Homo sapiens: one gene and its partners. The main gene of each other region encodes a partner of the protein of the gene in region 2 in a complex. Each region holds a gene or a part of one and is shown on either strand. Other genes may lie near its edges. A codon is read from its position in the direction of its gene.

Region 1 (7,341 bases), on a different chromosome or scaffold from region 2:
TTTTAATATTTTACTGCACTGAAGAGAAATACTTTTGACTGAATTATCTTCTGGCATTCTGTAATTTTTAATCTCAAAAGAATCAATGTGGGCCTGACAAAAAGGGAGATTTCACTGATTTTGGCAAGTTCCTAAAATGTTTTGTCTTCTTTGCACATCTTAGTAGCAGGAGTTACCCCCATTTGTCTGCTTCCTGCTACTAGAATGTAAGCTCTGAGTGTAAGCTCTGAGTGAAAGCATTTTTCCATTATATTCAGTTACACTCCTACAGTCTTAAAATGGGCAGACACACAATAAGTAGTTGCTGAATGATAAATCAGTTGTGTTTATTTCCTTGAGTTAGAAACCTGGATGTCACGTAAATAATAATGGAACCTGGATGCCATGTAAATGCAGTAAAAGAAACAGGTTTTGTCTGCAGGTTCCATTTTAAACCAGCAATATACTATAGGCAAGTCTGGTCAATACAAGTTCTGGTCAGTTTCTTCTTTCAATTCAGAATTTCCATTTCAATTTTGAGAATCTTTGGGTCAACTCAAAGAACTCCTACATCTCAATTGCAGAGTCTGTATTATTTCATAAATTGTAATGGGATGTTAATCTTCACTGATACTAACTGGCTAAGCTATAGAGGGCAAGGTGGTAGAATTTCTATTGCAAAGATAAGTAATAATTACTATAAATACTCTTCCCAAAGAAACAGCAAATAGTTATCTTTCAAGCTGTAATCATTATCTTTCACCTAGAGTGTATTGTAAGTCTACAGAAATGATGTCATTAGCCACTGAAACAAGACTTCATATTGTAGTAATAAACAGACAAAAGATAATCCAAGTACAATTTTTTAATAAAGATAATTACAAAAGATGGAAAAATCAGCTCAGAAAGGCCAATTACTTCTTTAATAGATCAGTTTTTTTGACATAATAACTCACATCAATTTTAAATACTATCACATAAAGCATGGTGGAGAAAAGAAATTTTGCTTCATAATTAGAAAAACTCACAATAAAACTTGCCAAGAAAAACAAAAACGAAAAAGCCATTTGAAAATAAATACAGTCCATGCCAAAGTAGTATAAAATGAAGCCAGAAGTCTTCAAAAAGAAAACATTTTCCTTTCAATATTTTCTTTTTAATGATTTTCTGAAATTGGTGAGACTGTCAAATTCAGGGGTTGCTGAGCTGTTCTGATTTGGTTCTGTTAAAAGAGGCAATGTGAAATATTAAAAATGGCACAATCTTGGTTTAAATGCACTGACCTATTATATTGATCAGGTCCTGTAGGCTCATGCTAAGAAACACATTAATTGATAATGTCTTAAGTGTTTCTGGAGTAATTAATGCCTTAATTTTTCTAGTGATTTAATAAACTATTCCAAGTTATCCTGTAAAGGCTGGCACAAAATTATGTGTGCCCAAACATTTACATGCTTTCTGACACTAAAATCCTCAACTGTTTTTACTTAAAATTGTTTCTTAAATTTACCTATCTCACAACACTAAAAAAATCATGTACACAGAAATAAGAACACCATGAAAACCATTAAGTGCATATATAAAAGATAACAGCAAAAAAGGGTCTCAGATAAACTACGTACAAGAATACAAACTGACTGATATAGTTATACTGATAAACCAATAGGTAAGATGGCATATGTTGTCTTATGTACCAATACAAACTAAAATTCAGAGCACCTCATAATGATGTTCTAAGGTTCAGTCTAGTATTTCTGAAGTGTGTACACAAACACACACCAATAAACATGTTTAGTATTTTTATAGTATGTAAAAAGTACTTGATAAGGAACATCATTTACCCTTTGGTATCTGTTTTTTCACCACTGTTGTCCTTGGATTTATCTTCTTCCTTAACGTCTAAAAATAAAGATTGGGAAAAGATTAAAACCTATTTTGAAATATAAAATGTATATATATTATTTCAAAATATACTTTATTTTTAAAATATAAAAAGTTATGCAATCTTATTATTAATGAATTCGGTCTAAATAAGCTTTGTGTTGGGTGTTTCCTAAACGATGGCAGTACAAGCTATGAATAGTCACTGGATTGGGGTGCAGAGGGAGAAAAGGTGGCCCTAACTCTAGGTTTTGACCTATAGATTTAAAAAAAGCTTTCTGTGGTAGTATTTCATTTTTCAGTAGGCTGAAGAATTTTAACAACTGCAAGGCCCTATCGAAAGAGCCTCATCACCAAATAGAGAGTTTATTTTTTAAGCACAGAAAAGATAAAGCTTTTAAAAATGAGAACACCAAAAACAGACAGACAAGAAAACATAGTGAAAATGAAAGAAAAGAAAAAAAGTTAGGAAAATCCTACAGCTAAAGTTAAGTCGTCCTTAATTCAGTCATGGCTTGAATTTTTGGATGTCAATCAGTTACAAATATAGACTGAAGCCATCATTGTAATACATTGGGAAGTTAAAATTATAAATTTCTGTATGTAGCCTATTGAGGAGTGAATCCACAAGTAAAAGAACAGAACTAAATGTGTCAGATGTTATAGATTACTAACTCTCTAGTTTAAAAAAAAAAAAAAAAGCTGGCTTATTCACATAACTTCAATTTGATAGACATAGGAAAAATTGGATCATTATCTCTAAATCAGTTTTTCACATACTACAGGATCAAAATTAACAGGTTAACTAAAACGTGTGCTCATCACCATTACTTGCATTAGGAAATGCATCAAGTGCTGAGAATACAAATATTTAAGATACTGTGTTCCCTAGCCATGAGCAGCTCAGTCTAGTAGGGAGACAAAATCCTGTGAGGTGCTATAATATGATGTGTTAAATAAAATGGCAGAGGCATGTGTAAGTGTTCTGGGAAGTCAGATGAAAGGTAACAGATTCCGGTAGCAAATTCAATTGCCTAAAGCTAACACAGCGTTTTAAAGTAAGGCAATGTATCAAAGTATTTTTTCCTCCCTAACCCAGGTCCCAAATCCCCTCCTAGCTTTCCTCAGAGTTTTTAATGTTTTCTTCAATTTCTGAACAAAATCCATTATTTGACCTTTTTCAAAATGGCAAAACTGGTCTAAGGATATGTAACTCTTCTTTGTGTTTTCTCCCATTAAATAAGCTTTAGGTAGCTAAAAATTACCTTAGAAGTTCAGTTCTGACCATGCACTACCAATAGATTCATAATTACTTTGTCCTCTTTCTTAACCAATCTATATCACAATGCAATGTTCACTATTTTAAACCTATGTTATCAAGAAAATAAGGTTTCCTGTATTACTAAAGCAAATAGGAACAATAACATTTATATAAAAGCTTTAAGAGCTAAGTACCACTTATATGTAAGAAAAAAGAGTCACCTACCTAGCATACTTCCTCCTGATACCTGTGCAACTGACTTCTCGATAGCATAAACATTATAATGCAGCCCAATTTTTAAAATTTACAATTAAAACACAATTACCAAGAAACAAATCTGACCTGTTTTTTTGTCCTCTGTTTCTTTCTTATCTTCTTCAATTCTAGCTTTCTTTGCTCCTTTCTTATGATCAGCCACATTTCTTCGACCTCCTTCTCCTTCATCCTCAGAATCTGAGAATTCTTCATCACAAGCTATCCGCTTGTCTGATGCTCGAACTGCACAGAATATTTTAATAAATTTTGACAAAAACAGTCACAGGTTTTATAATCATTACAGCATACTCATACAAATGCACTAAGCAGTTAGTTACCACATTTAAACGTAAAGGGTAACATGCCTAATGATTTTAAAATTTGAATGGAATGAATGGTTTATTTAATATTGAAAACTTTGCTTTCATGTATGAAGAAATGGCTCAAAAACACATAATAAAAATTGGGGGAATCTCTTTTTCTTTAAAAATGCTGAAACTCTAAAGGAAAAAAGTGTGTTTTTCTAATAGGGGATGGGAATAATGTCATTACTTAAAAAGTAGCATTTTATTTCAGAGCTGAGAGGTGAAGTAGACCAAAAAAAAAGTACCAATACCAAATATGTTAGACAGTCTATACCATTACACATACTGTTATGCTACAATCTAACCATCACATTAAGTGTAATGAGAAGTTGTAAAATCAAACAGATGTTTAGTTATTTAGTTCACCCTACTTTAGATAAATGAGATGTCTTATTAATTTCCAAATATACTAAAGTTGCTAATTTTTGAAAACTTTCAATCATATATGTATATCCAGCCATACAAACTGAAACTGCTGACACCCAAATCAGGTTCTGAGACATCAGGAAGCTAAATCTCTGAAAGTGGCAAAAATGACAATATTAACAGTGTGCTCGTGAACATGACTTTATAGTGAAGTTCTTAGGCCACTAAAACCTTCCATTTCAATTATCATTTTGACAAATTGGAAAAATAAAGGCATTATCTTACTAGAAATTCTCTTGTCTGGATCTTCTCCATCTTCATCTCCACTGTCTTCATGAACAGCATCTTCTGGAATAGCTTGCATCTGGACACCAGGTGCATGAGGTAACATGCGCAAATTTTCAAACAAACGCTGTCTAAATTACACATGCAAAGTTTATTAGACAAAATTAAATTTCTTTGCAGTTCTTACATGCAAGAGAAAATATTTAGCAAAAAATTTCATCTTTGGTCTAGCTAAACCTATATATTAAAAGGTCTCTCTTTGTTGCCCAGACTAGAGTGCAGTGGCAAGATCATAGCTCACTGCAGCCTCAAACTCCTGGCAATCCTCCTGCCTCAGCCTCTGCGCGTTAGGACTACAAGTGTATGCCACCATGCCCGGCTAATTTTTAAATTTTTTGCAGACAAGGTCTCACTATATGGCCCAGGCTGGTCACAAACTACTGGTCTAAAGCTATCCTCCCACCTCGGACTTCCAAAGCATTAGGATTACAAGCATAAGCCACCTTGACTGGCCAAGGAGGCATTATTTTAGCCTGCCATTTCAATGATGAGAAAACATAAGCACAAAGGCAAGTGAACTTATCAAACATCATACAGCTTGTTTGTGGTACAGAGGTGACTCAAACCCATGCTATGTACTATAATGTCTCTACTTTGCTTGTGGAGACAAAGCCTTAACAAAATGTTCCAGACAATGAAAATAACTTATAGTGCACCTTGCAATTTTAAAATACATTTCAACTAATAAAAAAAATTATTTCCATTAACTGAAGAAATTAAATGGCTGAATACGGTGGCTCATGCCTGTAAGCTCAGCACTTCTGAGAGGCAGAGGTGACAGGATCACTTGAAGCCAGGAGTTCGAGACCAGCCTGGGCAACCAAGCAATATCCCATCCTGACAAAAAAATTAAAAATTAAAAAAAAAAAAAAAGAATAATCAGTAACTTAATGTTTCAAATCCTTTAGAAAAAAACAAAATATCTAATAAAGTTAAAAAGACCCATCATACTTGGCCCTTTAAAGCATACTAAATCTTTGTCAAGATAAAATGTTTATCAAAACAATTCAATGATTTCTTACTTTATCTTTTCCATATATTCTGGAGTGTTCTGGTTTGTCATGTTTGAAGGACTAATATGCAGTTTGAAGTCTGGTCCAAAATACTCAAAGTAATCATTATATGGCAACTCTAATGAAAACAATAAAATAAAGTTACATATTACAAGCTCAGTTTTCACAAAAAACCATGCACAGAATCCAGATTTAGGTGGTGAAATATTTCCTAAGAAAATGTTTAAAAGTGAACACAAAGTGAATGTTCTCCTATTTATAAAGAATGGCACTTACTCTAATCATTCATCCATCTATTTCTATATACAGACAGTCTCTGACTTTCAATGGCTTGACTTACAGTTTTCTGGCTTTTTTGTACCAACTTCAATGTCTTGTATTCAGTACATTACATGAAATATTCAACGTTTTATTTTTATAAAACAGGCTCAGTATTAGATTATTTTGTCCAACTGAAGCCTAACCTAACTGTTCTGAGCACGTTTAAAGTAGGCTGGGCTAAGTCATGTTTGGTAGGTTAAGTGTATTATATCCATTTTCTACTTATCATACTTTCAACTTATGATGGGTTTATCAGGACCTAATTGCAACATAATTAGAGGAGCATCTGTATTGACAGTTCATACAATAAAGATATTGTAATGAGAACACTTACCATTGGGAATCTCACAATCAAGGGCAACTGCAGTCTCATATGTCCAACATCGAGCAACATTACGGATTGTGTAGCCACCTCCTCCAAGCATCAGTAATGGTAAGTTAAAAGTTTTTACAACTTCTACACATTTAGCATGACCTAAGACAAGAAGATTTGGGTAACAACAAAATCTGCATACTGCAACAGTTCGAAAAATAAATTTTAAAAAGATAATAAGTGCAAATGTTACTCAACCAAAATGGGTTTTCTAAATATTTTAAAAACAAATAAAAATGTAAAAAATGTCAAGTCTAAAACTCCTTTCCAAACACGTTATACAATAATACATATTAAAAAATTAAGATATAACTAGCTATTTTAGCAGGTGTCCCTGATGGAAAAGTCAAGTACACAACTATATTAAGATTATAATATGAATATACACCTATTTTATTAACACAGAAAGATGTTCATGTAGGGTTACATGGTGAAATTCATCATGTTACAATAAAACATTATGTATCATCTAAATTAATTTTTATTGACTTTTCTTTCCCTATGGACATGTGTAAAATAATTATGGAAAGCTAAACAACATAGTTTAACCCTGAGTTAACTTTAGGTAGTGGTACTGAGTAGTTTTCCTAACTTAAGAGTTAAAAACATCTATTAATTTTCAAAAACTTCAACTTCTACGTGTAGAAATTTAATATTAATAGTAAACCTAACATAAAAGTAAATATTTTATGTGGATAAATGTCATAATTCAATAAACATTTATAAGTTTCCAGTAAGTTCCCTTCTCGGAATATTACCAGTTAGGCACATAACTCAATCTTTAAAGAAGAAAAGAAAATCCTTCAATTACAAAAGACATTTGTGCATACTGAAGAGTATTTGGGAAAAAATTAAAAAGGGACAATGAAAAAACTAACCACCTAAAAATGACATTATTCAAAAATCGTTTTTCTATATTTCCTTCCATTTCAGAGTTAATTTTACAAAGTTTATCTGTTCTCTTCATGTAACTGTATACTGTGGGAATTTTCATTAAGCATTCTTCAATAGTTGCAACATGTGATTTACATAATTCTAGCACTCAATTTTTATTATTGCTACTAGAAAAGTTTCTTTTAACAGATAAAAACCATTTGGATATTTTTAAAGAAAAAACAAACATACTAAAAGTTAACTTACAGGCTTCCAAGTAAAGATAGCTGGCTAAACAAAGATGTTTAC
Region 2 (7,491 bases):
AAGGCATGGTCAATGACAATCCGAAAGAGAAATTCAGAGTAAGGGACTTTAAAGATGTGAACCACTTTATTAGACTACTGCTGGGCATGTGTATATGTGTACATGCATACATACACATATACATGAAATTAACCTAAAATTGCTTTTTTTTTTTTTTTGAGGCAGGGTCTCACCCTGTCGCTCAGGCAGAAGTGCAATGGCGCAATCACCATCACCATAGCCTCAACCTCCTGGGCTCAAGCAATCCTGTTTCAGCCTCCCAAGTAGCTGGGACTACAGGTGTGCACCACCACGCCTGGCTAATTTTCTTATTTTCTGTATAGACAAGGTCTCACTGTTGTCCAGGCTGGTCTCAAACTCCTGCCATCAAGGGATCCTCCCTCCTTGGCCTCCCAAAGTGCTGGGATTACAGGCATGAGCCACCATGCCTGGCGGGTCTTGCTTTTTTTTTTTTTTTTTTTTTTTTTTGAGATGGAGTCTTGCACTGTTGCCCAGGCTGGAGTGCAGTGGCGTGATCTCGGCTCACTGCAAGCTCCACCTCCCGGGTTCACGCCATTCTCCTGCCTCAGCCTCCCGAGTAGCTGGGTCTACAGGCGCCTGCCACCATGCCCAGGTAATTTTTTGTACTTTCACCATGTTAGCCAGGATGGCCTTGATCTGACCTCGTGATCTGCCCGCCTCGGCCTCCCAAAGTGCTGGGATTACAGGCGTGAGCCACTGCGCCTGGCCCGTACCTTGCTCTTTTTTAAAGATAGTCTCATGTGTTACATGAGCCCTCAAAAAGTTGGGTAAAGACTCATAACCGTTCCTCTCCATGGAAATCTTTAGTAAAAGGTAAAAGATTTATACAATCTGAAGAGAAACCAGAGTATGTGCCTTGCTTTTTTAAAATCAAAATGGATGACTCGATATTTTCCCATCTGCCATGGAAGCAACCTACTAAGCTACAGAGCTCACACCATTTTTTTTTTTTTTTTTGAGATGGAATCTTGCTCTGTCGCCCAGGCTGGAGTGCGGTGGCGTGATCTTGGCTCACTGCAACCTCTGCCTCCGGGTTCAAGTGATTCTCCTGCCTCAGCCTTCCCAAGTAGCTGAGACTACAGGTGCAAGCCACCATGCCCAGCTAATTTTTGTATTTTTTGTGGAGACGGGATTTCGCCATGTTGGCCAGGGTGGTCTTGAACTCCTGACCTCAGGTGATCCACCCACCTCGGCCTCCCAAAGTGTTGGGATTACAGGTGTGAGCCACCATGCCTGGCCAACCTCACACCTTAAGTATGGCTATATCTCACTTGCAAGGTTAGGATTGTTTCCTAACGTTGGCCCATCACTAAAAAAGTTTTTAGTCTTAGATATCTTGCCCCATCACCAATTTACATAGGTAATTAGACCCACTGGGACATACGAAGTACAGGATAAATTAGAGTATAATACAAATCACTCCTCACTACTCTGTGTGGTTAAATGTTGTGCTTTAATTTTCCTGACTTCTTCCTCTAACGCACTGTGTCTCTGACAGCAATTACACTGAATCTCACCTCAATCTTTCTCAGCAGGTTATCTCAGTAAGAATGCAGGAATAATAATGTAAACTAACACCAGGAAGCTTGAGGGTTCTTTTCTCCTAAACTAGAACATTCACTGAACATCATAGCCAAGTAACTGGGTATGGTGTGTCCCCTCCCTAAACTTACCCGAGATGATATCTGTGAGTAAGCGGTGGGGCAAGTGGAGAAATTCCTCTGTATTCTGCAGCTGGGCCAGGTGGGTCTTGGCACAGTGCTTGGCAGCCGTATAGAGCTCAGGATCACTGTGCCGATCTGCCAGCCACATCACCTGAAGGCAGTTTCCCACTTGCACTGTGCGGGCCAAAAACCGAGAGCATTCCTCAAAGAGAGATGTCAGCTGATACATGTCTGACACCTCATAAATTTCCTGCAACTCCTCAGCTCGAAGTTTCACAGTCCCATGGTAGATATAATCAACCAGGAGCTGGAAAACAGACTCGCTGACATCCTGCAGCACAATCACCCGGTTGTGGGCCTCCTTCAGGTTGGAAGTGAACATGGATCGGAAGAAGCAGCTCTGAGCTGAGAGGACCAGCCGATGGAGCTGAAACTCCCGGCCTTCCACCGAAATGGTGACATCAGCAAAGAGCTCCTCCTCTAGACACAGTTTCATGATGCCTTGAGCCACACGGCCTGAATGTGACCGATCTTTGAAAGTGTAGTTCACAAAGTAGTTCTCATCCATGGATGCTCCAGGCTCCTCTGGTGATTCCATGCTAGCCAACTTCTCTCTCTGCCAGCTGTCTGCAAAGCAACACCATCTTGAGTAACCTGAGGAATTCACAGCCATAGTCTGTGAATCCAACTGTCCAACTCAGGGAGGGAAAAGGAAGAAGTGAGAGCAAAGTGGGTCCAGATTGGCCTTAGTCCTGGCCCTGTCCATGATGTCCCTGACGCTATCCTTTAACCAAATCTGGGTTCGTTATCCCCAGTGGCGCCCCTCCGCTAATGATATAAATAAAAGTTCCAACTCTGGGTGTTTTCCTGAGAAAACACGGAATAATTCCTTTCCATAATGTTAACAAAAGACTTGGGATTTAGGTCAATATATGAAAGCAAAGGGCTGGGAGAGGCCTGTGATCGTAAAAGCCTTACTAACCAAATAACTGGGGCATAAAACTAGTGAAGCTCAGGGGCAGTAGAATCAGACAAAAAGGACCCCTGGCCCCGGCCTAGTGGCCAGGTCCTCTCCTTCCCAGCGCATGGAGTTAAGACGCTCCATATGAAGCCTAGCCTGGGATATCCGTGGGTCTTACATTTGCTCTCTTCTGAGCTGCTTCCCCCACACTTCCCCGCTCGCTCGAAAGACTCCCTATGGCTGCGTCCCAGAACTTGAGTCCATCCGCCCCCAGGCCGGGGCACTGGGAGGCCCATCACCCTGTGCAATGTCCCCGCTCCACCTTGAGTCGTCTTGGAAACGGTCGCCAGGGAAACCGTTCTTCCCGCTCAGGCCCGCCCGCCCTCGTCAAAAGCTTGGCTCAGAGAGCGGGGGAGGGGTGTGTAGCGTAGAACCCAAAACGCCCGCCCCCTCCCCTCCTCTCACCCGCCTGGTTCTTCAGCGTCCTCGCCTTCTCTCTAGGCTCTGCCACAAGGAGCTAGGACCACGCTCACCTCACGATTTCCCTACCTGCCTGTCTCGCTTTCTCACCTGCGTTCCCTCCTTTCATCCCGGAGCCCGGAACCTCCGCTTCCGGCTCCACGTCCGCCCGGAAGAAGATCTGCTGCACACTTCCGTTTCCGGTCCGTGCCCTTGGGGCTCCGTGTCCTGCTGTCTTTCCGTCCGCTGCCTAGTCTGCATCTGAGTAACATGGCGGCGGCGGCGGTAGCCAGGCTGTGGTGGCGCGGGATCTTGGGGGCCTCGGCGCTGACCAGGGGTGAGCACGGGCAGCCAGCTGAGACCGGGGTCAGGCGCAGCGGCGTGCCCAGTGCAGAGAGCTCCTCAGGGCTCATCCCGCGCGTCTGTGCCTTTTATCTCCCTGTGCAGGGACTGGGCGACCCTCCGTTCTGTTGCTGCCGGTGAGGCGGGAGAGCGCCGGGGCCGACACGCGCCGTGAGTATGTGCGGGCAGCGCTCTTCTCTGAACTATCGGCGGGGCCCCTTAGATGCCTGTCCTTGCCCTAGGATGCCCTTCCCTACGTCCTCCTGGCAAATCTTGGAGATCTGACTTGCAGTGGTCTTCACCCTGCATGCAGAATCGAGCCCTCCCTGTGCCCTTAGGCCTGTTATGGCCCTGATTGTTCCTTGTCCATTTCAATCATCCCCTTTTTGTCTGATTAAACTGTCAGCTCTTTGAAAGCAAGCAATATAACCTTTAGGCCTCAGAGCCCTGTAATAATAGTACCTAGCGTTAATTGAGTGCTTAATGTGTGCCTGGAACCTCGCTAAGCGTTTTAGTGAATGATCTTATTTCGTCCTCACAACAGCCTTATGGGGTAGATAGCATCTTACTCTTCTTACTATAGATCAGGAAACAGTCCAAAGAATTAAACTGCCCAGGGTCAAAGACCTAGTGAATGACAAAGTAGGCCTGCCTGCTGCCAGAGGCAGAAACACCTAACCATTATTCTGTAGCTTGTGATGTGTGATTGCTCAGTGGTTTAGGGTTGCATGAATGAGTATGTACATATTATGTTACAGTCAAGATACACGGACTGGGAGTTAGGAGACCTGGCATTTCTCCTTTCCTGGGTTTTCTCATTGACACACACACACACACACACACACACACACACACACACACACACACCTGGGCCTCAGTTTTCTCATTGACACACACACACACACACACTTTTAAGGAGAGAGAGAGTCTGTGAGGGATCTTCAAGCCCTGAAGTTCTTAGCTTGAGAACCTGGTATAAACTTGCGTGCTAAGGAGCTACAGAGAGGCAAAAGTTCAGTTCCCATCCTCAAACAGCTCTTAGTCTGACAGGAGAACTGAGACTACTGCTTTAGCAGAAATGCAGGCAATGTGAGGGAAGAACTGTGGAGTAATTTTGAGAAGAGGTGAACACCCCAGCTGCTATAGTAAGAGTCTTTCTGAGGACCGTGTAGTTAAGGTGGCACTTTCCCCAAGTTTTCATCACTGTATTCCCTAGAAGGGAAACCTTTCACATGCACCTTTCTCAAGGTGCTTCAGGGAGCCTTTCCTGGATTTGACATCCCTTACAAGCCTAAGAGACTGCATGCAGGGCTGGCTTTTGCCTTCTCCATTTCTTTTTTAAATATGCCTTTTCCTTCCAGCCACTGTCAGACCACGGAATGATGTGGCCCACAAGCAGCTCTCAGCTTTTGGAGAGTATGTGGCTGAAATCTTGCCCAAGTATGTCCAACAAGTTCAGGTAATACTTACTAATGTTATTTGGGTCTGGGTCAAGAAAGAACCATGTTCGCAGGGCATGTGGGAGTGGGCAGACTTGTTTCAAAGAAACTACAGATTCCTCCATCCCAAGCTTGGACTTTTCTCTCAGCATTAAACCAGGTGACTCCAGCTGAAGTTAGCTGTTCCCTCAGTAGCTCTTTGTTCCCTCTCCCCTCACTTTCATGTGTGCAGGTGTCCTGCTTCAATGAGTTAGAGGTCTGTATCCATCCTGATGGCGTCATCCCAGTGCTGACTTTCCTCAGGGATCACACCAATGCACAGTTCAAATCTCTGGTTGACTTGACAGCAGTGGACGTCCCAACTCGGCAAAACCGTTTTGAGGTCAGTTGGGAGATCTGAGAAGGTTTTGGGGGTAAGGATATTAATTTCAGTTTGTAACATACAATAGAACACAGCAGTTAAACTGGAACTTCAGAGTCAAGTAGATCTGAAGTTGGATCTTGGTTCTGCCACTAAATGGCTGTGGGACCTCAGATAACTCAAATATTTTGTTTAATTTTTTTTTTTTTTAGACGGAATCTTGCTCTGTCGCCAGGCTGGAGTGCAGTGGCATGATCTTGGCTCACTGCAACCTCCGTCTCCCAGGTTCAAGCGATTCCCCTGCCTCAGCCCCTTGAGTAGCTGGGACTACAGGTGCATGCCACCACGCCCGGCTAATTTTTTGTATTTTTTTAGTGAAGACTGGGTTTCACCATGTTGGCCAGGATGGTCTCAATTTCCTGACCTCGTGATCTGCCTGCCTTGGCCTCCCAAAGTGCTGGGATTACAGGCATGAGCCACCATGCCCGGCCCTTGTTTAATCTTTCTGAGCTTTCATTTTCTTACCGGGAAAATAAATATAAAGCTGTCCTTATCTTATAGAATGGTTATAAGGATCCAATGAGATAGTTCAAGTAAATTGCTTGCACACAGTGTTTTCAATACATTTAGCTATTAATATTTTACTGATTATCTACTGTTTGCCAGACTCTGGGATGGAGAGAGAAATAACATGAAGTATTTGTCCTCCAGGAGTCCCCTACACTCTAGTGAAGGAGAAAGACACCTAAACAGCTTACTGTAGTAACATATAATACAAAGGATATTAGAGGGATGCTTTAAGAAAGCAGGAGGGGCACTTGGCCCTGTCTGGGAGGCTTCTTTGAAAAGAGAGAATGTTTGTGCTGAATCTAAAATATGAGTAGGAGACCAGGTAGCCTTGTGAGATGGACCAGGGAAATATTCCTGACAAAGTGAATAGCATGAGCAAACACAGGCATGCTGACATGCTAAGCTACAGCTGTGGCCTGGGCCTTTGGAAGTAGTTGTAAGCATAGGAGAATCTTGAGGTTTTGAGGTTCAGAATAGAAGGCAGGGTCACAGGGCAGAACTCTCCCAATCAGGGACTCCCATCTCAGCCCTCCAGATCCTTCTGTTCTCCCTAGATTGTCTACAACCTGTTGTCTCTGCGCTTCAACTCACGGATCCGTGTGAAGACCTACACAGATGAGCTGACGCCCATTGAGTCTGCTGTCTCTGTGTTCAAGGCAGCCAACTGGTATGAAAGGGAGGTGAGTTACCGGATATGGTGGACCTGCCTCTGGGCCACAGTTGCAGAACTGGTTCAGACTACGGGATGCAGTGTAGCCCCTTCCCCCTGTTGTTAGTCTTGATGGATTGGCTGTTTGAGGTGGTCTCTTTCCTAGATCTGGGACATGTTTGGAGTCTTCTTTGCTAACCACCCTGATCTAAGAAGGATCCTGACAGATTATGGCTTCGAGGGACATCCTTTCCGGAAAGACTTTCCTCTATCTGGCTATGTTGAGGTAGGAGCCTTGGAACTGGGACAGCAGCCTCAGGGAGGGACTTGCAGAGAACCCAGGGGATCCCTGGGAATGGCAAGAAATACGGTCTGTGGATTGTGGTGGTTTAAGAGCATGGGCCCTGGATTCAGATCCTAGCTTCATTTTTGTAACCTGGGGCAAGTTACTTGGTTTGACTGTAACTCAGTTTTCTCATCTTAAAATGGCAATAATAATAGCACTTTAATAGATTTGTGGCTGGCATTAAATAATGTATGTGTAGGCTCACGCCTGTAATCCCAGCACTTTGGGAAGCCAAGACAGGAGGAGTGCTTGAGTCCAGGAGTTCGAGAACAGCCTAGGCAACATGGTGAAACCTCTTCTCTACAAAAAAATAGAAAAATTAACGGGGCATGGTGGTGCATTCCTGTGGTCCTGGCTGCTCAAGAGGCTGAGGTGGGAGGATCGCTTGAGCCTAGAAGGCGGAGGTTGCAGTGAGCCGAGATCACGCCACTGCTCTCCAGCCTGGGCAACAGAGTGAGACCCTGTCTCTAAATAAATAAATGATGTATGAAGCCTGCTGTATTGTAAAGGCTCAATTGATGCTGTGTGTGTGTGTGTGTGTCAGGGTCTCACTCTTGTCACCTAGGATGGAGTGCAGTGGTGCGATCATGGCTCACTGCAGTCTTGACCGCCCAGGCTCAAGTAATCCTCCCACCTCTCAGCCCTCCGAGTAGCTGGGACTACAGGCATGCACCAACAT
Region 3 (7,341 bases), on a different chromosome or scaffold from region 2:
TCGAGCCCATCCTGGCTAACATGGTTTCTACTAAAAATATTTAAAAATTAGCCAGGCGTGGTGGCGGGCACCTGTAGTCCCAGCTACTCAGGAGGCTGAGGCAGGAGAATGGTGTGAACCCGGGAGGCGGAGCTTGCAGTGAGCCAAGATCGCACCACTGCGCTCCAGCCTGGGTAACAGAGCGAGACTCTGTCTCAAAAAATAAAAATAAAAATAATAAAATAAAATAAAAATAAAGAATTGGGTCAGGCACAGTCGCTCACACCTGTAATCCCAGCACTTTGGGAGGCCAAGGCAGCAGGATCACTTTAGCCCACGAATTCAAGACCAGGCTGGGCAACACAGCAACATCTCATCTCTAGAAATAAAAAAATTAGCCAGTTGTGGTAGCACATGCCTGTGGTCCCAGCTACTAAGGAGGCTGAGGCAGGAGAATGGCTTGAGCACAGGCGGTTGAGGCTGCAGTGCACCATGATCGTACCACTGCACTCCAGCCTAGGTGACAGAGCAAAACCTTGTTATCAAAAAAAAAAAAAAAAAAAAAAAGGCCAGGCACGGTGGCTCGGCCGGGCGTGGTGGCTCATGTCTGTAATCCCAGCACTTTGGGAAGTCGAGGCAGGCAGATCATCTGAGGTCAGGAGTTCGAGACCAGCCTGGCCAACATGGCGAAACTCTGTCTCTTCTAAAAATACAAACAATTAACCGGGTGTGGTGGGTGGCGCATGCCTATAATCCCAGCTACTAGAGAGGCTGAGGCAGGAGAATCGCTGGAACCTGGCAGGCAGAGGTTGCAGTGAGCTGGGATCGCGCCACTGCACTCTACCCTGGGTGAAAGAGCGAGACTCCATCTTAAAAACAAACAAAAAAGGGATCTAGGGTCTATGCAGTGTATTTAAGAACTTATTGAAACTGGAATACACTACTATAATTAAAAGAATGGCAGAGAAAAGTAAATATGATGTCCTTTAAGCTGGATCCTCTAACTTAGAGGAAGACTATGTATTATAAAATTAGCTAAATAAGAGCCACAATTATTAAAGTGAAAATCAAAACTGTTTCAAGGTACATTATCGTGTTTAAATTTGATCTGGGTCTTTCTTTTGACTGTGGCCATGGCACTACTAACCTAAAGAACCCTTCAGGCTCCCTTCACGGTAGAGTCCTTTCCTTCGTCCCTGCCATACCTGGAACATGCTCCTCCTCCTATCACTCTCAAGTCCTCCCCACCCTTCAAGACCCAGCTTAAATCCCTACTTCTTGACTGAAGCTTTTCCTGACTCTTCCACCCTGAGTCATTTTCCTCTCCTTCAGGCACTCTTAACACATCAATTATGAGTATCTCTTTACATACCTGACCTCCCTCCTTCCCCCTCAACTCAAAGCTCCCACAGAGCAGGGACCTGGTCTTTCTATGCCAAGTGCAAATTAGGCTCTTGGTACTTGAACAAGCAAACAAAAACTATTTCTATAAATAGAAGAAATACGGGACAAATACAGATTCATTCTTTTTTTTTTAGACAGTCTCGCTCTGTTGCCCAGGCTGAAGGGCAGTGGCACAATCTCCACACTGCAACCTCCACCTCCCGGGTTCCAGCTATTCTCTCACCTCAGCCTCCCAAGTAGCAGGGATTACAGGTGTGCACTACCATACCAAGCTAATTTTTTGTATTTTTAGTAGAGACGGGGTTTCACCATGTTGGCCAGGCTGGTCTTTAACTCCTGACCTCAAGTGATCTGCCTGCCTCGGCCTCCCATGGTGCTGAGATTACAGGCGTGAGCCACTGCATCCGACCAAGATTCATTCCTTTTTTTCTTTTAGACAGAGTCTAGCTTTGTCCCCCCAGGCCGGAGGGCACTGGTGCAATCTTGGCTCACTGCAACCTCTGTCTCCCAGGTTCAAGTGATTCTCCCGCCTCAGCCTCCCAAGTAGCTGGGACTACAGGCATGCGCCACCATGCCTGGCTATTTTTTGTATTTTTAGTAGAGATGGGGTTTCCCCACGTTGCCCAGGCTGGTCTTGCACTTCTGGCCTCACACGATCCACGCGTCCTGGCCTCCCAAAGTACTGGGATTATAGGCGTGAGCCACCGAGCCCGGCCAGATTCATTCTTTACTACAAAATTCCTAACAAAGAACAAAAATGTATAGGAGGGATATTACTGCAATCTAGAGTACCAAATAAGAAGGGATATAGCAGGGAAAATGATTAAATATTAGTGTAAAATGTGCTCAATACAAAAGTTTTCCAGCTTTTGTTGCAGAGAGTAAGTACAGGGGTTGAGTCCAGTTAGTTTAAACGGGCAGGAACTGTTCACTGTCAACCCAGAACAGGTTGACAGTGGCACATAACGGGTTCATGTCACACCCCTGCCAAGGCAGAAGCCTATCATGTGATTTATAAAGCTTGGGGACCTTTAAGCTTTGATAAAAACGCTGTACCACCAAAGAACTGTTAAGGAAGCAATGGCTTCATCTCAAGAGTAGACAGATTACACTTTCAAAACACTGACGGGGCCGGGCGTGGTGGCTCACGCCTGTAATCCCAGCACTTTGGGAGGCCGAGCCGGGTGGATCACTCGAGGTCAGGAGTTAAAGAGACCAGACTGGCCAACATGGTGAAACCCTGTTTCTACTAAAAATACAAAAATTAGCTGGGCATGCTGGTGCATACCTGCAGTCTCAGCTGCTCAGGAGGCTGAGGCAGGAGAATAGCTTGAACCTGGGAGGCAGAGGTTGCAGTGCACCGAGATCATGCCACTGCACTCCAGCCGAGGCAACAGAGCAAGACTCTGTCTCAAACAAACCAAACCAAACCAAACCAAACCAAACCAAACCAAACCAAACCAAACCAAAATACTGATGGATCTGTAGTTTTAGGTAGATGCTAACATCTTCTGGGCCAAGGCTGGGTCTAAGATGATGAAGATTCCCCATCATCAGGAATAAGATTACCAGAGGTAATAGAGAAAATAAAACCTCACATATTTGATTTTTCAGCAACTCCTTAATACAACCAAGGAAGGAGACAGTGTAAAATAAAATAAATACAAAGGTACAGGAGGGCATGCAGAATCAATATGGACTTAAAAGAGGAAGTCTTCAGAATCCGACTAGGGCACAGCCATAATCATTCTTATTTACTTAGAGCTATGTATATAATTACTCATTTAAGGTCAGACAAGATTTATTAAAATACAACCGTTGCTAAATCTAGATTCTTACTTTCATCTTTAACAAAAATTGTCTTTATAAAAATGATAAATCCATTTTTTTCTTTACTTGCTAAGTTCTTTTCCCATATAAATCCTTTTTTTTTTTTTAAGTTATGGCACTCAGACTTCTCCTCAGTGTCTATAATAAAAGTGTGTGGCCAGGGGCAGTGGCTCACACCTGTAAGCTCAGTGTTTTGGAAGGGCAAGGCAGGAGGATTGCTTGAGTCCAGGAGTTCAAGACAAGCCTGGACAACACAGCAAGACCCAATCTCTACAAAAAATTAAAAAATTAGCAGCTAGATGCGGTGGCTCACACCTGTAATCCCAGCACTTTGGGGGCCGAGATGGGTGATCATGAGGTCAGGAGCTCGAGACCAGCCTGGCCAACATAGTGAAACCCCATTTCTACTAAAAATACAAAAAATTAGCCAGGTGTGGTGGCGGGTACCTGTAATCCCAGCTACTCGGGAAGCTGAGGCAGGAGAATTGTTTGAACCCAGAAGGTGGAGACTGCAGTAAGCCGAGATCGTGCCACTGCACTCCAGCTGGGTGACAGTGTGAGACTCCGCCTCCAAAAAAAAAAAATTAGCTAGGTGTGGTAGTGCACGTCTGTGGTCCCAGCTACTTAGAGGCTGAGGTAGGAGGACTGCTTGATCCCAGGTCAAGGCTGCAGTGAGCTATGACTGTGCCACTGCGCTCCAGCCTGGGCACTTGAGTGAGACCCTGTCTCTAACAAAAAAATACATAAAAATAAAAAATAAACAGTGTTTCTCTTTTTGAGATAGGGTCTCACTCTCTCACCTAGGCTGGAGTGCAGTGGCAAAATCTTGACTCACTGTCACCTCTGCCTCCCGGGCTCAAGGGATCTTCCCACCTCAGCCTCCCAAGTAGCTGGGACCACAGGCATAAGCCACCATGCCTGGCTAATTTTTTGTAGAGACAGGGTTTCGCCATGTTGCCCAGGCTGGTCTTGAACTCCTAGGCTCAAGCGATCTGCCCGCCTCAGCCACCCAAAGTCTTGGGTTTACAGGTGTGACCCACCTCACCTGGCCAAGAGTGTCTTTTTTTTTGAGACAGAGTTTTGCTCTTTTTGTCCAGGATGGAGTGCAATGGCAGGATCTCGGCTCACTGCAACCTCTGCCTCCCAGGTTCAAGTGATTCTCCTGCCTCAGCCTCCCATGTAGCTGGGATTACAGGTGCGTGCTACCACGCCTGGCTAATTTTGTATTTTTAGTAGAGATGGGGTTTCACTGTGTTGGCCAGGATGGTCTGGATCTCCTGACCTCATGATCCCCCCGCCTCAGCCTCCCAAAGTGCTGGGATTACAGGCATGAGCCACCGCGCCCCGCCTAAGAGTATGTTTCTTTTTTTTGTTGTTGTTGAGATGGAGTCTCACTCTGTCACCCAGGCTGGAGTGCAATGGCGCGATCTCAGCTCACTGCAACCTCCGCCTCCTGGGTTCACGCCATTCTCCTGCCTCAGCCTCTCAAGTAGCTGGGACTACAGGCGCCCGCCATCGCACCCAGCTAATTTTTTGTATTTTTAGTGGAGACGGGGTTTCACCTTGTTAGCCAGGATGGTCTCGATCTCTGGACCTTGTGATCTGCCCGCCTTGGCCTCCCAAAGTGCTGGGATTACAGGTGTAAGCCACCACGCCTGGCCTAAGAGTGTGTTTCTTAAAGGTAAAGACTTGAGGTCGGACATGGTGGCTCACACCTATAATCCCGGCACTTTGGGAGGCCAAGGGGGGTGGTTTTTTTGAGGCCAGGAGTTTGAATGGGTCATGTCTGTAATCCCAGCGGTTTGAGAGGCCAAGGCGAATGGATCACCTGAGGTCAGGAGTTTGAGACCAGCCTGGCCAACATGGTGAAACCCTGTCTCTCATAAAAATACAAAAAATGAGCCGGGTGAGGTGGCCCACACCTGTAGTCCCAGCTACTTGGGAGGCTGACGCAGGAGAATCACTTGAACTCCAGCCTGAGCGACAGAGACTCTGTCTTTAAAAAAAAAAAAAAAAAAAAGGTAAAGACCTGCCCGATCTCACTCATTGTTTTATCCTGGTGCCTACCAGGATGCTCAGGATATATTCATTGGATAAATAAAAGATAGGACTTAGAAAATACTTTCATAAGTTTTTGTTATAGGATTTCAATATCCTACTTCATCTGACATTCAAAATATATTATGAAACAAAACAGGTATCCCACTGAAAGCCTAATATGATGTCTCAAGCATTTCACTCTAAGAGAAGACAATATAGATCGCCTTTGTCTTCTGTGGTCCTTTTAAGAAGTACATTCTCTCATATCCAGAGACACATATACACTGACTTAAATATAGAGAAAAAAAAATCAGGGTTATATAAAATCATTAAAAATCATTAACTATTTTCAAAACAGAGCCCCAAGAAAGTAAAATTTTCTCTGGGTATAACTCCTTGTGAAAATGCAAGGCCGAGAAACTGGCAAGCATGTAATCAAAGACCCCACCCAAACACATTTGAAACCCTGCATATGTTTTTCTGTGATGGGTTCACGGCATCTATATTAAACATTATGGTAGGTGCTGATCTTCCTTGGCTGTAGTGTGAAGAGATAAACAGTGTCAAAGCTCAAAGAAGCCAAGGGCAATACATGACCAGTATAAGCCATGACTGCTTTCCAACAGAAAATATTTGATTCGTGCTTTTCAAGTTGAAAACATCTGAGCAAGTTTAAGATAAGATCTAAAGCTCAACTATGGGTTAGTCTTACATTGCACAATAAAGTAGTTATTAACCACATGTGACTACTGAGCACTTGAAATGTGGCTAGTCTGAATCCAGATGTGCTGTAAGTGTAAAATACACAGAATTTCAAAGATAGTACAAAGACAGAATGTAAAATATCTCATTTTTTTTTTACATCAATTACATGTTGAAGTAAAACTATTTTGACTATATAAGGTTAAATAAAATACATTAATTTCACCTTTTTATTTTCTTTTTACTTTATGAATGTGGATACTAGAAAATTTCAGGCCAGCCACAGTGGCTCACGCCTATAATCGCAACATTTTGGAAGGCCAAAGTGGGAGGATCACTTGAAGCCAGTTCGAGACCAGCCTGGGCAACAAAGCGAGATCCCGTCTCTGAAAAAAACAAAAAAAAAAAAAAAGGAAAAAGAAAATTTAAAATTATATACGTGTTTGTACTGGCTTACATTCAGATTGGACAGTGCTGGGTTAGACAAAACCAAGGAAGAGAAGAGGTGAAGAATATTCTAGGCAAAAAAGACTAGGCTATTTAAGGGCTCTAAAATAGAGCATGGACACTTAAGAATGGAAAAGCAGGCCGGGCATGGTGGCTTATGCTTGTAATCCCAACACTTTGGGAGGCAGAGGCACGCGGATCACCCGAGGTCAGGAGTTCGAGGCCAGCCTGGCCAACACGGTAAAACTGTGTCTCTACTAAAAATACAAAAATTAGCTGGGTGTGGTGGCAGGTGCCTGTAATCCCAGCTATTGAGGAGGCTGAGGCAGGAGAATCACTTGAACTCGGGAGGCGGAGGTTGCAGTGAGCTGAGATCACGCCACTGCACTCCAACCTGGGCGACTCCATCTCAGAATAAGGAAAAAAAATGGAAAACTGGCCGGGGCCATGGCTGCTTTGGCCACCGTGGTCAGTTAAAAAAAAAAAAAAGCATCCAGGTAAACTAACAGAGTGAGCAGGAGTGACTCAAGACAAAGTTGTAAAGGCAGGTGAGTGATCTGAAAAATAAGTTCCTATAATTCCATTTCTAGAAACTTAAAGTTTCTTTCCTCCATTTCTGGCCTCAGTAACAAATCATTTTAGTTCCCGGATGAAAAAGTAACCTCAACTGTTCCTGGTGTGATCAACATTCTTGTCCCTTCTACTGTAAGGACAGGAAATCAGTTCATCAAAGACTATAATCAGATCACTATGTGCTGACCACTACATGTAATAAAATATGTGGAGATTTAAATGAAATTTCTTTAGTGCAATTAATTATTTATTTAGATGTTGGCAATGATTTCCTTTTTATTATGTTTGGGCCTAACATACAAAATCCTCACTCCTTAACGCTTCTTTCCTTTGTAAACAATGACCAGCAAAAATTAGATCAGATAG
Region 4 (7,240 bases), on a different chromosome or scaffold from region 2:
TTTTTACTTTTTGTAGAGACAGAGTCTCCCTAAGTTGCCCAGGCTGGTCTCAAACTCCTGGGCTCAAGAGAACCATCCGCCCCAGCCTACCAAAGTACTGGGATTATAGGCGTGAGCCACCACATTCAGCAATTTCTGTTCTTTATAAACAGTGTTCTGTTATAGCAGACTAAGATACTGATGACTACCAAAAAATTTCTATCTTCTAAACTGCCTACTGGATGCCTCTACTTGGATGTCCCCTAAACATCTTAACAGTTATCAATAGTTATTTCTAAACAAACAAACAACAACAACAAAAAAAACAGTGGCTTAGGCCTGTAATCCCAGCACTTTGGGAGGCCAAGGTGGCAGGATTGCTTGAGGCCAGGCACAGGAGTTCAAGACAAGCCCAGGCAACATATTGAGACCCCATCTCTAGAAGTTTAAAAAAAAAAAAAAAAAGTTGGGGCCGGGTGCGGTGGCTCACACCTGTAATCCCAGCACTTTGGGAGGCCGAGGCGGGCGGATCATGAGGTCAGGAGATCCAGACCATCCTGGCTAACACGGTGAAACCCTGTCTCTACTAAAAATACAAAAAATCAGCCCAGTGTGGTGGCGGGCGCCTGTAGTCCCAGCTACTGGAGAGGCTGAGGCAGGAGAATGGCATGGACCCGGGAGGTGGAGCTTGCAGCAGTGAGCCGAGATTGCGCCACTGCACTCCAGCCTGGGCGACAGAGCGAGACTCCATCTCAAAAAAAAAAAAAAAAAAAAGTTATCAACTGACATGGCATTCTCCAAACCTCCAAACACTCACCATCAAATTGCCCACATCAGAGGCCAGGAAGTGTGGCTCATGCCTATAATCCCAGCACTTTGGGAGGCTGAGGCAGATGGAGCACTGGAGGTCAGTTTGAGACCAGCCTGGCCAACATCGTGAAACCCCATCTCTAATAAAAATACAAAAACTAGCCAGGCATGGTGGCGCACGCCTGTAATCCCAGCTACTCAGGAGGCTGAGGCAGGAGAATCCCTTGAATCTGGGAGGTGGAGGTTGCAGTTGCAGTGAGCCGAGATCAAGCCACTGCACTCCAGCCTGGGTGACAGAGCTAGACATCATCTCAAAAAATAAAAAATACTGCCCACACCAGGAACTTGGGATCCATGCCTTCTTCCTTACCCCTACAATCTGAATTTTTTTGTTTTTTTTTTTTTTGAGACGAAGTCTCGCTCTGTTGCCCAGGACGGAGTGCAGTGGTGAGATCTCAGCCCACTGCAACCTCTGCCTCCCAGGTTCAAACAACTCTCGCACCTCAGCCTCCTGAGTAGCTGGGACTACAGGCATGTGCCACCACACCTCGCTAATTTTTTTTTTTTTTTTTGAGATGGAGTCTCACCCTGTTGCCCAGGCTGGAGTGCAGCGGTGCAATCTTGGCTCACTGCAACCTCTGCCTCCTGGGTTCAAGCGACTCTCCTGCCTCAGCCTCCTGAGTAGCTGGGATTACAGGTGCGCACCACCACACCCGGGTAATTTTTGTATTTTTAGTAGAGACAGGGTTTCACCATGTTGGTCAGGCTGGTCTTGAACTCCTGACCTCATGATCCGCCCGCCTCAGCCTCCCAAAGTGCCGGGATTACAGGCGTGAGCCACCGTGCCCAGCCTAAATTTTGTATTTTTAGTAGAGATGGGGTTTCACCGTGTTGGCCAGGCTGGTCCTGAACTCCTGGCCCCGAGTGATCTGCCTGCCTCAGCCTCCCAAAGTACTGGGATTAGAGAGGTGTGAGCCACTGCACCTGGCCCCCATTACTTTAATTTCTAAGGTATAAACCTGATGATGTCAATAACCTGCATAAAACTTGAATCACTCACAAGTGCCCTCAATAAAGTCCAACTTCCTTGGGACAGCATGCCCAGCCCTTCATGGTCCGGTCCCTATTTACATCTTTTTTTTTTTTTTTTTTTAAGACAGAGCCTCGCTCTGTTGTCCAAGCTGGAGTGCAGTGGCACGATCTCAGCTCACTGCAACCTCTGCCTCCCGGGTTCTAAGGGATTCTCCTGCCTTAGGCTCCAGAGTAGCTGGGATTACAGGCGCACACCACCATGCGCGGCTAATTTTGTATTTTTAGTAGAGACGGGGTTTCACCATGTTGGCCAGGCTGGTCTCGAACTCCTGACCTCAGGTGATCCACCAGCCTCGGCCTCCCAAAGTGCTGGGATTACAGGCGTGAGCCACCACGCCCGGCCAAATGCCTGTTTTTCAAAGGTCCTGTCCTCTCTCTTGCCTCTGAAACTTGCTGTTATCTTTGCCTTCCCTGTGCCTGGCTAAGAACTCCTGTTCTTCAGGTCCTAACTAAGATGTCCCCTCCTTCGCTGACTCCTCAGGTGGAGTTCGGTGCCTCTTCTCTGTGCTCCCCTAACACTCTGAGCTCTGACACGGAGAGAACTTCGGTCACTGGGAAGGGTGACCCGATCAACCCCACGGCCCCAGCCCCTCAACACTTCCTCGAACACAGTAACCTGCTTGAGAGATTAAGTGAGAAGTCTGTTTTAACAGGTTGCATCCTTCTCCTTGCAACCCCTGGCGCCCCACGTCGCAGTAGCAACCGCAGGCCCCGCTCAGAGGCTGGGGGAGGGGAGGCGGGCAACCAGTCGTGCAGGACTCTTCCCCCAGAAAAGATGAGGAAGGGACGGGGCAGGGAAGAGCTTTGGGTTCTCGGCAAGAAAATGTATCCTTGCAGCCGTCTCCATCAGATTCAGCCTCCCCGCTCCGACGCACCCTCCCCTCTAGGAGTCCCACTCAAACTCTCCACATCAGACTTCCTCAGAATCTTCCCATCAAGATTACCTCACGCTTCCCCCACGCGATCCCCTCTTGGTCTCAGCCTCGATCTCCCTTCCTCGCAGCCTCCTCCCTCAGCCTCGACTTCCCCCTCGCAGCCTCCTCTCCGAGCCTCTCCCCAGCGCCTCAGCCTCCCGCAGCCTCCCATCGGCGCTCCAGCCTCAGCCTCCAGGTTCCCGGTCCGGCCCGGCCTGGCCCCGCCCCCGCCGCGAGGACGGTGCTCACCGTCGTAGTAGTAACAGACTTTCCTCCGGGTGCCCTGCGTCTGCGCCATCTTGCTCGCCTCCCGTCCCTACCGTCAGTCGGTCCGTCCGCCCTCCCGCCCGCGGCTCCGCTCAGCGTCCGACCCAGGGGGGAGGGGGCGGGCCTCCGGCCCGCCCCGCCCGTCCCCTCCTGGGCTCACCTATAGCCGCGCAGCCCGGGCACCGCTCCAGCCAATCAGCTTGCGCAGACACGGGCCCGGAACTCGGCAGGGGGCAAGGGCAGCCCGGAGAGGCCGCCGAGGGCCCCCTGGGCCTGTACCAAGGTCTGCGACAGATGGGTGGGGAGCCGCCCGGGGACCGTACCATCAGTCCCGGGGGAGGAAAGCAGCTCTGTAAACTTAACAGTCCCACTTCGTCGTGAAAAGCGTGCTTGGAGATCGGAGGCCAACTTTCTGATTTTACGGAGAATAAACCGAGGCCTACAGGGGAAAAGTGACTTGCACAAGGTCACTCAGCCAATAAAAGGGCTGAACCTGGGTTAGAAAGCGAGTTTGTGGCCGCAAAGGAGGGCTACAGAAAAATAATTAAAAAGAAAAGCAACACGCGGGTTTGGAGAGGAAGAAACCGACAAGAAAGGGAAAGAAAGCTAATGTTTGTCGAGGGGCTGCTGTGTGCCAAGTACTGTGCGACACTTTACCAATGTTATTTCAGTTTTTCCTCAAAACAGCTCTCGGCCAAGGGCTTTTTACCTCCATTTTACAGGACAGGATAAAGAAGTTCAGACTTCTGTGAATTATTCAAAGTTACACAAAGTAATTAAATTCAATTTTTTAATTGTACAGGGTTTTTAAAATGCTTTCTTTGCACCAGAGGCACTGTAACAAAGTGACAGAACCCAGCCTTTCAGACTCCAAAATCTACCTCCCTGATGCAGTCACCCAGGATGACTAAGTAGGCGTCTCTTTAGACAGGAGGAAATGGGATTATCCTATGATAGGAGGGCAGGTTTCCTTTCTTTTCTTTCCCTGTTTTTTTTTTTTTTTTTTTTTTTGAGACAAGAGTTTCGCTCTAGTTGCCCAGGCTGGAGTGCAATGGTGTGATCTCGGCTCACCACAATCTCTGCCTCTGTGTTCAAGCGGTTCTCCTGCCTCAGCCTCCCGAGTAGCTGGGATTACAAGCATGTGCCACCATGCCCGGCTAATTTTGTATTTTTGGTAGAGACTGGGTTTCTCCGTGTTGGTCCAGGTGGTCTCGAACTCCTGACCTCAGGATCCGCCCACCTCGGCCTCCCAATATGCTGAGATTACGGGCGTGAGCCACAGCGCCCGGCCTAGGAGGGCAGGTTTCTCAGCCTGGTAGCTAATGACATTTTGGGCCAGGTAATGCTTTTTTGTAGGAAGCTATTCTGTGCATTAACAGCTTCTGTGAAGCTGTTCTGTGCCTGGGCAACTAGAGTGAAACTCTTGTCTCAAAAAAAAAAAAAATTAAGCAGCATCCTTAGCCTCTACCCACTAGATGCCAGTAGCACCTTCCCCCCAGGCTGTGACAACCAAAATTGTCTCTAGACATTGCCAAGTACTGTGCAATAGCTTTACCATTGGGTTGGGGGGAAGATTAGTGGGGTGTAAGGGAGTGTAAAATTGCCCCCAACTCTACCATTAAGAACCACTCCACCAGATCATCAATTATCAACTGATCATCACTGAAAGCTGAAAGACCTAAAAGTGCAATGCTGGGCTATTAAAATAACTACAATAATGTCAATATTTAATGAGTGCTTCCTGTGTGCCAAACATTGCTCTAAGTTAGCCGCCAACTTGTGGTCCTACAGTCAACAAGAGGCTGGGCACAGTGGCTCACGCCTGTAATCCCAGCACTTTGGGAGGCCAAGATGGGTGGATCACTTGAGCTCAGGAGTTCGAGACCAGCCTGGGCAACATGGCAAAACCCCATCTCTACAAAAAATAGAAAAATTACCCAGGTGTGGGGGCGCGCTCCTGTAGTTCCAGCTACTCAGGAGGCTGAGGTGGGATGATGGCTTGAGCCCAGGAGACAGATGTTGCAGTGAGCCAAGATCATGTCACCACACTCCAGCCTGGGCAATAGAGCCAGGCCTTGTCTCAAACAAAAGAAAACAACAAGATACATCTTTATGCCTCTTTAAAGAGTGTTTGGGACTTGTGTTTCTCACTCAGAAACTGCATTTGAGTCATTAATTATAAGGTAACAGAAAATCTAAGACTGGGTGGCTTATAATAGAAACAGCAAAGGGCCAGGGAACAAATTCTACTCCCAGTTCTCTGTTGCTAATTCTCAGCTAGCCCTGGGTGGGTTTACTTAACCATTCTGGGCCTCCATTTCCCTTGTTATAAAATGGGGAGGAGGCCGGGCACAGTGACTCATGCCTGTAATCCTAACAATTTGGAAGGCTGAGGTGGGCAAATCACCTGAGGTCAGGAGTTCGAGACCAGCCTGCCCAGCACGGTGAAACCCCGTCTCTATTAAAAATGCAAAAATTAGCTGGGCGTGGTGGTGTGTGCCTGTAGGTCCCAGCTACTTAGGAGGCTGAGGCAGGAGATTCGCTTGAAACCGGGAGGTGGAGGTTGCAGTGAGCCGAGATCAGGCCACTGCATTACAGTCTGGATGACAGAGTGAGACTCTGTCTCAAATAAATAAGAAATAAAATAAAATAACAAAAATGGGGAGGATAGGAATACAAAGTTCACCCACGCTATGGCTGTACACAGTATCCCAAAGAGAAGGAGTGTGGGGATCAGATGAGATCATGAGGTGTGGCAGCAGGTCAGTCAGGTGATAGATTTACATTATTATGACTCAGATGCTCTTTGTTTGCATATATATATGTATATATATATATATAATTTTTTTTTTTTTTGAGATGAAGTCTCACTCTGTCGCCCAGGCTGGAGTGTAGTGGTGCGATCTTGGCTCACTGCAAGCTCCACCTCTCGAGTTCACGCCATTCTCCTGTCTCAGCCTCCCGAGTAGCTGGGACTACAGGCACCTGCCACCAGGCCCGGCTAATTTTTTTATATTTTTAGTAGAGACAGGGTTTCACCATGTTAGCCAGGATGGTCTCGATCTCCTGACCTCGTGATCCACCCACCTCAGCCTCCCAAAAAGTGCTGGGATTACAGGCGTGAGCCACCACACCCGGCCCTTTTTTTGTATATTTTAAAAATTACAAAAAATAAATAAAATAAAAATTAAAAAAATAAAAATTAAAAAAATTAAAAATAAAAATTAGAGGCCGGGCACTGTGGCTCACTCCTGTAATCCCAGCAGTTTGGGAGACCGAGGCGGGCAGATCACCCAAGGTCAGGAGTTTGAGACCAGCCTGGCCAACATGGCGAAACCCCACGTCTACTAAAAATATAAAAATTAGCTAGGCATGGTGGCAGGCGCCTGTAATCCCAGCTACTAGGGAGGCTAAGGCAGAAGAATGGCTTGAACCTGGGAGGCAGAGGTTGCAATGAGCTGAGATCGCGCCATTCAGCCTTCCGAGTAGCTGGGATTGTAGGCACCTGCCACCACTCCCGGCTAATTTTTTGTATTTTTAGTAGAGACGGGGTTTCACTATGTTGGCCAGGCTGATCTTGAACTCCTGACCTTGTGATCCGCCTGCCCCGGCCTCCTAAACTGCTGGGATTACAGGTGTGAGCCACGGTGCCTGGCCAACATTTCCCTATCTTTCATCAAACACTCTGCCATCCTCAGGTATCTTTAATTTTCTCACTTTTTAATGGAAATGTGGGTGCAAAAAACCATTTTCTTTATTATACCATTTATTAAATGGTATAATACCATAATATAATTTTCTTTATCATACCATTTATTAAACCATTTATCTTTATTATAAGAACAACAAGCATGAGCTTGGTGGTAAATAGCTACTAACACTCAGTTTCATTGTCTAAGACCAACAGGGAGTGGAGGGGACTCTGGCAAAGGTAGAGTTCAGGCCCTACCTGGAGGGGTGGCCATTATTCAGCTCCATGAGGACAGGTAAGTCCAACATAGCTAAATCTTCCCTTTTTTTTGAGATGGGGTTTCGCTCTCTTTTTTGCTCTGGCTGGAGTGCAATGGCAGGATCATGCTCACTGCAGCCTTGACTTCCTGGGCTCAAACTATCCTCCTAAGTAGCTAGGAATACAAGCTTGCCTCCTGAGTAGCTGGGACTGCAGGTGTGCACCACCA

What was found.
Region 1: the proteins of KBTBD4 (region 2) and HDAC2 are in contact, whole or in part, in a cryo-EM structure (PDB 9GGM), measured with the Homo sapiens proteins. Residues at the interface, in NP_060565.4 of Homo sapiens: Cys290, His291, Ser309, Arg312, Arg313, Trp326, Pro329, Pro331, Arg332, Asp333, Arg334, Thr355, Gln357, Ser361, Ala363, Val373, Trp374, Thr375, Glu376; in NP_001518.3 of Homo sapiens: Gln27, Gly28, His29, Pro30, Asp100, His142, Gly150, Phe151, His179, Lys201, Gly203, Glu204, Tyr205, Phe206, Gly208, Asp231, Gly269, Asp270, Arg271, Leu272, Gly273, Cys274, Tyr304 (codon at 6,193), Arg307 (codon at 6,184), Asn350 (codon at 5,518), Met351 (codon at 5,515), Thr352 (codon at 5,512), Gln354 (codon at 5,506).
Region 3: KBTBD4 (region 2) and RBX1 share a complex: the UniProt entries of both Homo sapiens proteins name them as parts of the BCR(KBTBD4) E3 ubiquitin ligase complex.
Region 4: the proteins of KBTBD4 (region 2) and HDAC1 are in contact, whole or in part, in a cryo-EM structure (PDB 8VRT), measured with the Homo sapiens proteins. Residues at the interface, in NP_060565.4 of Homo sapiens: Cys290, His291, Gln292, Arg312, Arg313, Trp326, Pro329, Leu330, Pro331, Arg332, Asp333, Arg334, Thr355, Gln357, Ser361, Ala363, Val373, Trp374, Thr375, Glu376; in NP_004955.2 of Homo sapiens: Gln26, Gly27, Pro29, Glu98, Asp99, Gly149, Phe150, His178, Lys200, Glu203, Tyr204, Phe205, Pro206, Gly207, Asp230, Gly268, Asp269, Arg270, Leu271, Gly272, Cys273, Ser348, Asn349, Met350, Thr351, Gln353.

The regions. Positions count from the first base shown.
Region 1 is NC_000006.12:113,939,888-113,947,228, forward strand, and holds part of HDAC2 (histone deacetylase 2), read right to left. Parts: intron 6,262-7,341; coding exon 6,121-6,261; intron 5,584-6,120; coding exon 5,475-5,583; intron 4,524-5,474; coding exon 4,393-4,523; intron 3,620-4,392; coding exon 3,464-3,619; intron 1,879-3,463; coding exon 1,821-1,878; intron 1,202-1,820; coding exon 1,171-1,201; 3' UTR 1-1,170. UniProt on the Homo sapiens protein: Histone deacetylase that catalyzes the deacetylation of lysine residues on the N-terminal part of the core histones (H2A, H2B, H3 and H4).
Region 2 is NC_000011.10:47,575,717-47,583,207, forward strand, and holds the start of KBTBD4 (kelch repeat and BTB domain-containing protein 4), read right to left. Parts: upstream 3,255-7,491; 5' UTR 3,236-3,254; coding exon 3,217-3,235; coding exon of another isoform or gene 3,196-3,216; exon of another isoform or gene 3,112-3,195; intron 3,056-3,111; exon of another isoform or gene 2,943-3,055; coding exon of another isoform or gene 2,825-2,942; intron 2,382-2,824; coding exon of another isoform or gene 2,313-2,381; coding exon 1,695-2,312; intron 1-1,694. Other genes in the region: NDUFS3 (NADH dehydrogenase [ubiquinone] iron-sulfur protein 3, mitochondrial precursor), read left to right, coding at 3,376-3,442, 3,553-3,618, 4,809-4,906, 5,119-5,268, 6,372-6,497, 6,633-6,752. UniProt on the Homo sapiens protein: Substrate-specific adapter of a BCR (BTB-CUL3-RBX1) E3 ubiquitin ligase complex which targets CoREST corepressor complex components RCOR1, KDM1A/LSD1 and HDAC2 for proteasomal degradation.
Region 3 is NC_000022.11:40,954,287-40,961,627, reverse strand, and holds part of RBX1 (E3 ubiquitin-protein ligase RBX1), read right to left. Parts: intron 1-7,341. UniProt on the Homo sapiens protein: E3 ubiquitin ligase component of multiple cullin-RING-based E3 ubiquitin-protein ligase (CRLs) complexes which mediate the ubiquitination and subsequent proteasomal degradation of target proteins, including proteins involved in cell cycle progression, signal transduction, transcription and transcription-coupled nucleotide excision repair.
Region 4 is NC_000001.11:32,288,023-32,295,262, reverse strand, and holds the start of HDAC1 (histone deacetylase 1), read right to left. Parts: upstream 3,181-7,240; 5' UTR 3,094-3,180; coding exon 3,045-3,093; intron 1-3,044. UniProt on the Homo sapiens protein: Histone deacetylase that catalyzes the deacetylation of lysine residues on the N-terminal part of the core histones (H2A, H2B, H3 and H4).